Linked DNA regions of Homo sapiens: regions 2 and 3 are each linked to region 1. Evidence: fine-mapped expression QTL. A gene starts in region 1. Each other region holds a variant in brackets. All regions are shown on one strand. Distances are between the middles of the regions. Region 1 holds the start of TAB2 (TGF-beta activated kinase 1 (MAP3K7) binding protein 2). Region 2 overlaps TAB2-AS1 (TAB2 antisense RNA 1). Region 3 holds the start of SUMO4 (small ubiquitin like modifier 4).

The links. PIP is the estimated chance that this variant, and not a neighbour inherited with it, causes the effect.
Region 2: its variant is fine-mapped to the expression of TAB2 in whole blood (TOPMed, PIP above 0.99). The same link has a PIP of 0.9 or more in T cells and blood mononuclear cells.
Region 3: its variant is fine-mapped to the expression of TAB2 in whole blood (INTERVAL, PIP 0.93).

What each region holds. Positions count from the first base shown.
Region 1 is chr6:149,315,644-149,319,643 of GRCh38, forward strand. TAB2 (TGF-beta activated kinase 1 (MAP3K7) binding protein 2) reads left to right here and starts at 2,069. Exons shown (of 7, transcript NM_001292034.3): 1 at 2,069-2,372. RefSeq lists silencers at 1,212-1,281, 1,332-1,871, 1,962-2,861 and enhancers at 2,952-3,131, 3,292-3,401.
Region 2 is chr6:149,240,354-149,244,353 of GRCh38, forward strand. It overlaps TAB2-AS1 (TAB2 antisense RNA 1), which reads right to left. Exons shown (of 3, transcript NR_149096.1): 2 at 3,273-3,648; 3 at 2,930-3,131. It also overlaps a transcript of TAB2 not described here. Among named protein-coding and RNA genes, the nearest start is that of TAB2-AS1, 15 kb to the right of the region's middle. The variant C/T (reference allele first, on the strand shown) is at 2,405.
Region 3 is chr6:149,399,902-149,403,901 of GRCh38, forward strand. All of the region lies in intron 6 of TAB2 (TGF-beta activated kinase 1 (MAP3K7) binding protein 2), which reads left to right. It overlaps SUMO4 (small ubiquitin like modifier 4), which reads left to right and starts at 361. Exons shown (of 1, transcript NM_001002255.2): 1 at 361-1,377. The coding sequence starts at 491. The coding sequence ends at 778. The variant TA/T (reference allele first, on the strand shown) is at 2,097.

The DNA.
Region 1 (4,000 bases):
GCATTTCGTTACCATGTCTTTAGTTTTTTCTAGTCTGCAGTCTTTGTCTTTTATGACATTGGTCATGATTTAAAAATACAGGCTAGTTATTTTATATTTTATTTTCCTCTACTTGGGTTTGTCTGATGCTTCCTCATGACTACATAGCTCTAAGTGCACTGCTGGTGCAAGGATGTATTTGTTATATGTACCTTCTTTGCCCCCCACTGGTTTTTAGACTTGACCTGCTCAAACCTATAATCTATAAAGCATTATATTTCTATTAAAATACGTACATGTACATTCCATAAATTTTTTTAAAAATTTGCATAAAATACATCATCCTACCATTTCAAAAGCAATTGTTGCCTCTGTACTTTATAATGGTTTCAAAGACAAGTGAAATTTACTTAATGGATTCAGTTTATCTAAAATTATTTAATCAATTATTTTATCATTGAGTATGGAAATAATTCCTCAGAGAACTGCTGTAAAGCGTTAAAGTTAATGATTTCTTCTCGCCAGTAAAACTAGAATCTTCCCAATTTTGTAAATCCTAATTTTACTTTTGCTTCTCTTAATGGTATCACCAATGGAGAATAATTAAATTCCGATATTGTAAATCATAAGTACTTTCAGCTTTTGAAGTGGCAAAGTATTTGAATTGGTGCTATAGCCCAGACTTCAGGTATTTTCAAAGGATGAATGAGGAAAAAGGAAGTGGGGAGAAAGAACTTTTAACTGTGAGGAAGGCTCTACTATTTAAAAGATGGTTTAAAAAAAATTCTCACTGTAGCTACAGTGCTCACACTGGAAATAAAAGTATAAAAATGGTCCTTTAGGATTTTTCTCTGGAGTAAGAATTGTTTCAAGGAAGAAACTGCCAGGGATATGGACATTTTGGACAGGGGCAGAAAAATGCCCTAGTGTTTTGGACACCATGGAAGCGCTAGAATTTTTAAATAAATATTTCACATTGTGAGAAACGTCTGAGTATTAAACACGCTTTTTTTTTCCCTAGGGGGACACTAAACAAATATTTATTTAAGGAGGTAGAAACTTGAAGGCCCCCCCTCTTCCCGCAAAGCTAGTCTTTGGCTCTGCTTCTAGGACTTCTAGGAACGTGCAATTAAAATAAAATCGAAACAACGAAACCCTCGCAGCATTTAGATTTCTTTTTTCCCCCTCAACTGCTCAAGAAAAGTCAGAAGCCGACACTTTTTCCAAGTCTCGAAGTTGCCAGTTGTGAGGCTCCCAAGACGTCTCCCGCACACCCTAGGGACGATTCTGCACGGGTCCCTCCCGTTAGCCGGCGGTGCGATCCGGCTCCAAGGGGGTGTGTCCCGGACCGCAGCGACCCGGCGCCAGCCTCCGCCGCGGGCCCACCTGCTCCTCTCGGCCGCCGCAGCGCCCCGGGGTCCGGCCGGGCCCCCGGACCCCACCCGCGCGGCGCCGCCGGCCGCCCGGCAAGTCCCGCCACCCACTTCCGGACCCGGCCAGCCCCTCCGCTAGGTGCAGCTGGGACGCGAGCTCAGTTCCTTTCTTCCCTCAGCCCAAACTGCTAGCGGCCCCCGTGGCGGGAGGTGGAACCCGCAACCTACCCCCAAGGATGGGGGGCCCAGGCGGAGAAAGGGGGTCCCAGCCCTCCCCGGGCTGCCCGCACCGGCACCCCCCTCGCACGGCCCCAGCGGCGGCCCGCGTCCTCCCTCCAGCCCTAGCAAGACAGGCGTAGAGACTGCGAGTGTCGGGGGAGGGGTACAGGTCGGAGGAAGAGCATCCCCGGGCCGCAGCCGCAGCCGCCGCCGCCGCCGCCGCCTGCTGCTCCCCCGCCGTTCGGCTAGGGGAGGCCTCGTCACAGCCGCCGCCTCAGCCGCGGCTGCAGATCTCGCGGTGTTTGCCGGCCGCCGCGCCGCCATATTGTGTGACAGTATTTTGATTTGGACTGGGCTGGCGGAGCCGCGGCGAGAGCGAGCGAGAGCTGGGGGGGTGGGGGGAGGGCAGGCGAGCGCGAGGGGGGTGGGGGCAGAGGGAGGTGGGGAGGCCGAGCGAGCCGGAGCTGAGGATTGGGGAGCGGCGACGCCGCCCAGCCGTCGTTTTTGATCTGCTGCAGCCGCCGGCGGGGCGACCCAGCCCGACCCCCTCCCCTCCCCCTCAGCCAGGAGCGGTGGCGGCGGCGGCGGCCGGAGGGAGTTGGCGGCGGCGGGCGAGCGGAGGGGGCTGAGCGGGGAGGGAGGGAGGGCTGAGGTGTCCCCCCTGCCGGGTGGAACCGGAGGCGGCGGCGGCGCTGGCGGCGGCCGTGGTGGCGGAGGCGACGGTGGAGACGGCTGCCCTAGTGGGAGAGGCGGCGGCGGCGGCGGCCGAGGAGGAGGAGGGGGAAGCGGCGGCGGCAAAGGGTAAGCGGACAGCGCTGCCGGGCCTCGGCGGGATCCCCAACCTGGCTCTCCCCTCATCGCCCCGCACCCCCCTCCGTCTGGAAGGGGCTCTGCCGCCTCGCGAGGCCCGTGCGGGGCGTTCGCTTCTAACTTGCACTCTTCCTCCCTCCGCCTCTTTCCTTCCCCCAGTGGCGTGGCGGAGAGGGAGGCCCCCCGAGTCCCCCAGTCCGGTGGGGGTGGGGAGCATCGGGCCGGGCCTGGGCTCCGGGGCGTCCGTGCGGGGGGGGAGGGGGAGCTTCATTGGAATCGAGCGCCTAGGAGAGCCCCGGGTGGGGGAGGGCGCAAGGGGCTCGGGAGGGCCCCTCCCTGCGTCGGCGCCCCTGACCCGCCCCCAGGCATGTGTGAGGTGGGGGCGGGGGAGGAAAAATCTCCTTTTGGGGAGCCGAGGTCTAGTTAAAGATGACTCAGGGGCGGGGGTTTTGGGGACAGACACGGGGCAGTTATGTGGGGGTCGGGCGGGAGGGAGAACATCGTTCCTTTGCGGATCTTGGTTTTCTGCAGCCGTCTTTGAAGTGGGGGGCAAGCCCTACTATGAATATGTGGCCCCTTAAATTTCACTGGATGTTTCTGGTTTTCGGTCCCATCAACCTCAAACCCTACGATTGTGGTTGAGTCAGGGAGGCTGCAAGGGTCTCTTGGCGGTGCTGAACAGGTGACAGGTGGATCTTTCTGTTGCTGATGCTGTGAGATGTTCAGGCACAGTCGTACACCAAAGTGTCAGAGACCGTGTGAGTTTGTATTTATGTGTTTGGCCATGTTTCATTCCATATATAGTATATTTGAGATGTTAGGTTTCCATTCTTCAAGTCAGCTTAATTGTTGTGGATAAATTCTTCAAATGTTTCTGATAAGAGGGTTTTCCAGGAGAGCGGAGGGAATTTGCAGCCTCACAGGGGTTTCTCCGTAGTTCACGAAATTTAGGCCCCCAGTGCAGGCTGTTGAGTACCCTTATTCATTGGAAAGTTCTTGAACGCTAAGATCGTATTCAGAGCAACTGTACGGCAATATAATTTTGCATCCATTTTGTCTGTTTTAGGTAAGTTTGTAAAGTGTCTAATTTTGGGGTCAGATTGATTCACATTTTAGAAAAGGAATTTCGTTTCCGCTTTAGCATACTCTAAAGGTTATGATGATCATTATGCAATTCCAGATTTGGCCGGGAATTTTAGTGGGCATGGAATAGAATATTTGCTTTCAGTTTTTTCACTTCTGCTTACTACACTGTTCATACAGTAGCAGAGTATTGACACCTTTTAAAAAATATCTTTACATTCTTTGTAACAATGAAATCACGATTTTAAACTTTTGACGGTTTGAAACTGTAAATTTTGAAACCATGGCAGTTTGTAATAAAGGAAGACTTGCTTTTCTTTTGTTGTAGGCTTTGGCTGAGCATTTTAATTAGAAACAATGGGAAGAATTGTTAGATACATGAGCTATAGGCTAAATTAGGGTACAGTTAGTTTAAGGATTCTGCTGCTTTAAAAAAACATGTATGGAACGAATATGATGTACTATCAATGTGTTAACAGGAAATAGAACAAAAATTCCAGTGATTCAGAACTTCTGTTTGGGTTTTTCCCCCATAG
Region 2 (4,000 bases), 75 kb before region 1:
GGTTCCTCCAGTCTATGAAACAAGGGGGACATTTCTGCACCCACAGAATGCAGAAAACTGCCCAGTTAGCCCCTCTCTGCTGCAAACCCTTCACAATTCAACAGACAGATGCCTTCGGGAGAGTTTCTGGAACTCCAGTGTAAATAAGGTCAGGTGGATCAGAATGTTCTGTAAAGTGTTATAAAACTGTAGAATAATAGCATCATCATCATCATCATTATAAAAGGATAGTGATAACATCTTAGGCTTGCTGCCTAGAGAGATTCAAGAACAATTACTTTATTTTTCTACTCTTTCTACTATATTTTTATTCTGTCTTTATGGTAGTATAATTTGCATATAATGAACATGTTTTAAGTGTAATGTCTGTCCAATTTTGTTTATTATTTTTGGGCTAACATAAAGTCAAATATATTTTAAAGTACAATAAAATCAAATGGCTATATTTTAACTAATATAAATATGTAGAGCTACAAATTTAATTATGACACGTGTTATGGATTAAATGGTCATGCCCCTCCCCTAAATGCATATGTTGAAGCCCTAACCCCAAATGTGACAATATTTGGAGATAAGGCCTTTATGGAGGTAATTAAGGTAAAATTAAGTCGTAAGGGTGGGGCCCTAATCCAATAGTGATAATGCCCTCATATAAAGAGGAAGAGACACCAAGAGCTCTCTCACTCTTCACACAAGCACAAAAAAAGAGGTCAAAAAAGAGGTTGTGTAAGGACACAGCAAGAAGGTTTCCACCTACACACCACAAGAAGAGGCCTCAGAATGAAATCTACCATGCCAGCACCTTGATCTTGAGCTTCCCAGCCCCGAGAACTGGGAGGAATAAATGACTATTGTTTAAGACACCCAGTCTATGGTATTTTGTTAGGGCAGCCTGAGCAGACTAAAACAATAGATTTTGGGCTCAGTTTAATAGTTACACTTGATGATATATGTAGGCAAACCACTTCTCCATTTTTTTGTTGTTTTCTAATAGTGGCTTTTTGCCTATACTCTTTTAATCAATAGGATGTTGATCCTGCGTACTGTAAATGATTTTTAATGTTTTTAAAGTGGCATTATAAATTGTTGTATTTGTTTCTTTCTATCAGACACTGATCCAATAAATGCTTGAAAAGGTTGAATATTTGCAAAGATATTTTAGCTTAAATATGGACTTCTTTAAAGTCTGCTTGCAAATTGATTCCATTTGCCAGCCACCATTTCAATGCTGTGGGTAGAAATATGACGAAAATGAGATTAAATCAAAAGCAAGGCTGAACTCCCTGCAAATTTTCAAAACTGCATAAAAGACTCCCAAGCAAATATAACCAGAAATTAATTCCATATTACGCTATCTGGAATGATTTACAGATGAAATTGTGATTTTTATTATAGCTCAAGCCAAAGCATTAGAGTCTGATTGAATATATACCTAGCCACCGAATCAGACTTAAGGATGGCTTCTCTGAACACATACGAGTAGAAAGTAGAAAGAATTGGGGAAGAAGTGAACTGGACCTGAAGCCCACTCTCAGCCTTCCAGCCCGTGCCTCCTCTCTCTGCTGCCCCGTAAGGCTGCTCCTGGGGGCCCCGAGGTCATCCTTGGCTACTGCGTTCCCCACTGCCTTCCCCAGGCTCTGGACTTTCCTCCCTCATTCTCCCCATCAAACCTTATCTGCCTGGTGCCATTGGGCTCCAGCTTCCCATTAGGAAACTGAATCTCTGCAGGATATGGATGTCACTGCTCGGGATGGCCCTCCTTCCTGCCTATCCCACATATGTGTATTGAAACAATGCTCTTGTAAAGAACATGCCTAAACTAAGGGATCATTTTGATGATACCTATTCCAGTCTTTGGTCTCTAGCTGTATTGGTTTCATGGACCCAACACTCATCTTTATCAAGTTTGATTAATTCTTTTTCCACAGGAATATAATATCATAATACTCCCTTAAGGTTTGAAATAACTCAAATAATCACCCAGGGTTACAGTAATACTAGTGCCAATAGAAAGTAACCTTTAAGTATAAACTAAAGCCTATTAGCACTTTGAAATCTAAATAAACCTATTTTTTTCCTGTGAATTGTTAGTAGGTGTTATTATAGAGTTCCTAAAGTTGCCTGTGAGTAGAACAGGAAATAAATTTCTCCCAATGAAAGAATATTGAAGACTTCATGACTGTCCCACAATACCCCAAAAGAGGCATTTCCTCTGAGGTTGAGCTTCCAAAAATGGAAATGCCCCAGAATGTATGGTTTAAGAGAATTTCGATGTGAGACACACACTTTTCTGGAAGAACCTGTAGCTCTTCCTTGTTGGCAGCCCCAAAGTCTATGAATCCCAAGATAGCCTCTGGTTCGGGATTGTTTTGCCATGGAGAAGAGAATGTGACATAAGGATGGC[C/T]GCCCGTCTCTTCTCTATGGGGCAGTTAGACTCATCCCCAAAGAAAGGCATCAAATCCCCATGATGCCCAGCCCCTGGTCACACCACGCAAAGATGGCAGGCCTCACAGGTCTCTTCCCTGCTGGGAAATGACAACAGTTCTCTCCCAGAAGGTGCTTCTCCCATGCTCACTCTGGAAGCACCCTTTCATCACCTTGCTATAAACTGAAATTCCCAGAAATTAGGATCTGCATCTGTAATTCCATCAGAATCTCCACATAGGTTTGAATTCTAAAATGAGAGAAGGAATCGGCTATGCCTGCTCTTGGTCTCAGCCTCTGAAATAGCTGCCTGCTGACTCATAGTGTAAACACAGGGGTTCATTCCCTTCTCTCCGAAATCTGCTCGTATGCACCCAAAATTATTATTATCTATGTCCAATCATGGAAGCAGGACAAGCTGAAAGACTGCCAGCACGGCCTCTGCCTTTCTCGATTTAAATATATAGATCTGGCTTTGGGCAGGCTCTTCAGACTGACACACTCTCCAGACGTAAATGTTATTTTATTAAGATACAGGGTGACATAAAAATATTTGTATAATCAATATATCGTGTTCTGCTTTAAAATCTGTGACAGGTCTTCAAGTAATCTCATTTTCACAGATCAAGTAGACTAGTCAGAAGTCTTGATGAATGTTGAAGGAGACATCATGGTAATTTACACTAGATTCACATTATATCCAGTTTCTGTGTGCAAAGAAATGGAAATAAGTTTGTACAAATCTTCCCCCACCTCCATAACCTAAAACACAGGAGACAACTTTAACTATATAATGTAATATTTCCAACAGGATGAGGATAGGCAGTACTTTCACCTTATTGACTTACCTTTAGCTTTTTGATTGGCTGAAGGCACTTCCTCAGAATAGATTCTTTGAAATGATCCTCTTCTTAACACAGTTCATTTTAAATATCCTACTTTTCTTAATAGTTTTCAATGCAACCCATCATCAAAGGGAAGGAGTTGATGAAAAGAAATGAAATTGAAACGTGCACCTGGGGAGAAGTGATTGAAGGTTCTTCATTTAAGGGATTGGCTCCTTTTCTCTTATTATACTGTGAAATCTGAAAACATCTCTTGAAATTCTGGTCACTGTCTTCTGGACATCCCAAGGCGCACCATCTCCACAGTTCCTCCCTCCTAGATTATCCCATCCAGTGTGGCATCCAGTGTGGCAAATGGAAAGACTCTTCCAGTGGGCAACTGAAAAGGACACCAAAGAAAGCAGATACAGCCCATGATCAAAGAAGCACATAACTTCAGTTTGGAACATGACTGATAGAAAGATCAATTAGACAATGTACACCAATCAAAGGTAAGCACCAACAGGTGCTATTGTACCAGAAAACAAACACAAAGGCTGAGGCTTTCCAGTGTTTGGGGAAACAGCCTCAATAAAAGGGATCTCAGGAATGGATTTATCCTTCTATCCTTCCTTCCACCCCTTCAACTGAGCCTCTACTACATGCTGGGCACTGTGCCAAAGGCCGGCAACTCGGAAATGAATAGGCTTGGTTCCTGCCCTCAAGTGACTTATAGTCCACGGTGGCGGTGG
Region 3 (4,000 bases), 84 kb after region 1:
GAGGGTGGAGGTTGTAAAGATGCAGTAGTATTTTTGTATGCATTTGAAGTTAAGTTGTTATCAACTTAAAATAGAAGAGTATAACCAAATATAATCAAAGTAAATCACGATTAAACGTTGTCGAATAACAAGACAATAAGAGGAAAAGAGGAGCAAAACAGTTGTCAAATAGACAGGAAGCAACAAACTGCCAATAGTAAGTCCTCACTTATTAGTAATTACCTTAACTGGAAATGGATTAAACTCACCACTCACAAGGAGTTGTATGAATGGATTTTAAAAACAGGATCTGGCAGCAGCCAATGGGAGGCCCCAACAGCTCGTGCTGGCGCACACAGCGGGAGGGGAGGGAGCCCAGGATGTGCACGCACCCTCTCCCTCATCCACCGCTGTCACCTCCTGCTGCTCTTCCTGCTGCTCGTGTACTCGTTAGGTGCGGACCCGCCACCTCTTTTGTGAAGCAGCAGCTGAGGAGACTCCGGTGTTCACCATGGCCAACGAAAAGCCCACAGAAGAAGTCAAGACTGAGAACAACAATCATATTAATTTGAAGGTGGCGGGACAGGATGGTTCTGTGGTGCAGTTTAAGATTAAGAGGCAGACACCACTTAGTAAACTAATGAAAGCCTATTGTGAACCACGGGGATTGTCAGTGAAGCAGATCAGATTCCGATTTGGTGGGCAACCAATCAGTGGAACAGACAAACCTGCACAGTTGGAAATGGAAGATGAAGATACAATTGATGTGTTTCAACAGCCTACGGGAGGTGTCTACTGAAAAGGGAACCTGCTTCTTTACTCCAGAACGCTGTTCTTTAAAGACCAAGATTACTGCATTCTCAATTAGAAAACTGCAATTTGGTTCCACCACATTCTGACTACTACAGTATAGTTTTCTCTATTCTTTTGTTTCCCCCTTCCACATTCTTTTATTATACATGAAGTAACTGGTATGTGTACACAAGCATATTGCTTTTTTCTTCAAACCAAACAGCCAATGGTATGTTTTGATTGACATCAAGTGGAGACAGGATGGGAAAAAATACTGATTCTGTGAAAATACCCCCTTTATCCATTAGTGGCATGTTCATTCAGGTCTTATCTTTATATTCTAGTAAGTTATTTTGCTCTCACTGTTTTAACAACAACAAAAAAAAATTCTCACATACCTTGTTCAATTGGAGGATTTTCATGTTTTTCATTTATCATTGTAAAACCAAGGACAATTTTATAACTTTTGTGTACATAGCTGTTACATGTAGGGCAATCTGTCTTTAAGTAGGGATAAATTACTCTAAAAAAAAAAGAAAGAATCCTAGAAAGTTTTTCCTTCAAGTCAGGCTTCTTATTTAAATAAACTTTTTGTTTAAAATGAAATAAAAATAAAAACAGGATCCAATAATATACTATCTACAAGAGACTCATTTTATATTTAAAGACACACATAGGCAGAAAGTGAAGGGATGGAAAAAGATTTTATATAAATGGTAGCTAAAAGAAATCAAAAGTGGCTATAATTATATCAGAAACAATAGATTTTTAAGTCTAAAACTTGAGACAAAGATTATTATGTAATGGTAAAAGGATCAATTCCACAGAAAAATATAAAAATTATAAATATATACACACCCCACATCAGACTACATTAATATGTAAAGCAAATAATGACAGTTCTGACGACAGAAATTGACAGCAATAGTAGGAGACTTCAATACCCCCCTTACAATAATAGAATATCCAGGCAGAAAATGAATAAAGAAACAGCTGATTTGAACAAGCACACACGGAACATTCTGTAGGATAGATCATATGTTAGTTCACAAAACGAGTTTAAACAAACCTAAGAAGATAGAAATCATTCCACGTATTTTTTCTAACCACAGTGGAATAAAACTAGAAATCAGTAACAGCAAGAAAACCATAAAATTTGTGGAAATTTAAACACAGTCTTGAATAATCATTGAGTCAAGAAGGAAATCAAAAGGGAATCTTAACAGTATCTTCAGACAAAAAGGAAAACATAGCATACTAGAACCTATGGGATGAAGCAAAGGCAGTACTAAGAGAGAAGTTTCTAGAGATAAACAATACTACAT[TA/T]AAAAAAAAAAAAGAAAGATCTCAATTATACCTCAGGGAACCAGTAGAAGAACAACAAGCTAAGCCTAATGTTAGCATAATGAAGAAAATAATAAGAATTAGAGCAAAAATAGAGAATTTAGAAACAACAGAAAAAGAAATAGTAAAACTAAGAGGTTTTTTAAAAAATCAACAAGATTGACAAACCCTTAGCTAGATAAATTGAGAAAAAAAGGAGACAAAATCAGAAATGAAAATGAAGACAACAGATGCCTCAGAAATAAAAGGATCATAAGGGAATATTAGGAACAATTTTATGCCAACAGACTAGATAACCTAGAAAAAAATTGATACATTCCTATCCAAAAAATATCCAAAAAAAATTGATATCACCTATTAAAGCTGAATCAAGAAGAATTAGAAAGACTGAGTAGACCAATAACAAATAAGGAGATTGAATCAGTAATCAAAAATCTCCCAACAAATATCCAGCATGGATTTAGAAATTTAAAAAAAAATTCCCAACAAAGAAAAGTCCAGAACTGGATGGCTTCATGAGTGAATTCTGTCAAACACTCAAACAAGAATTAATACCAACCCATCTTAAGCTCTTCCAAAAATGAGAAGGGGGAACACTTCCAAACTCATTCTGAGGCCAGCCTCACCCTGGTACCAAAACCAGACAAAGACACTACAACTAAAGAAAACTACAGACCAATATTACTGATGAACATAGACGCAAAAAGTCCTCAGTAAAATACTGGCAAACCAAACTGAGCACATTAAAAGGACCATACGCCATGACCAAGTGGGGTTTATCTCTGGGACTTAAGGATGGTTCAACATACACAAATCAGTTAATGTGATACAGCACACACATTGAAGTAAAATGAAAGGAATAACCATGTAGTCATCTTAATAGATGCTAAAAAGCATTTGAAAAAGTTCAGCATTTATTCATAATTAAAACTCTCAGGCCGGGCACACTGGCTCACACCTGTAATCCTAGCACTTTGGGAGACCGAGGCGGGTGGGTCACCTAAGGTCGGGAGTTTGAGACCAGCCTGACCAACATGGAGAAACCCTGTCTGTACTAAAAATACAAAATTAGCCTGGCTTGGCGGCCCATGCCTGTAATCCCAGGTACTCAGGAGGCTGAGGCAGGAGAATCGCTTGAATCTGGGAGGCAGAGGTTGCGGTAAGCCAAGATCACGCCATTGCACTCCAGCCTGGGCAACGGGAGCGAAACTCTTGTCTAAAAAAAAAAAAAATATATATATATATATATATATATATATATATATATACACACACACACATATATATATATATATATACACACACATATATATACATATATATACACACACACACACACACACACACACACACACACATACACATACACATATAGAAGGAACTTAATAAAGGCCATATATAAAAACCCCATAGGTAATATAATCAATGGAGAAAACCGAAAGCTTTCCCACTAAGATCTGGCACAAGCAAGGGTGCCATTCTTGCCACTTATTTTCAACGTAGTACAGGAAGTTCTAATGTAGTATCCATTTTTGTGTTGCTGTAAAGGAATACCTGAGGCTTGGTAATTTATAAAGAAAAAAGGTTTAATTGGCTCACAGTTCTGCAGAAAGCATGTCACCGATACCCACATGCTTTCTGTATAGGAAGCGTGTCACTGACATCTGCTTAGTTTCTGGAGAGGCTTCAGGGAACTTTTATTCATGGCAGAAAGTGAAGGAAGCAAGCAGAGGCATGTCATATGGTGAGCGAGACAGTGGGAGGTGCCACACCTTTTAAACAGCCAGATCTTTCATGAACTCAGAGCAATATCTCACTCATTATTGAGAAACCTGCACCAAGGTATTCATGAAGGATCCATCCCCAGGACCCAGACACCTCCCAC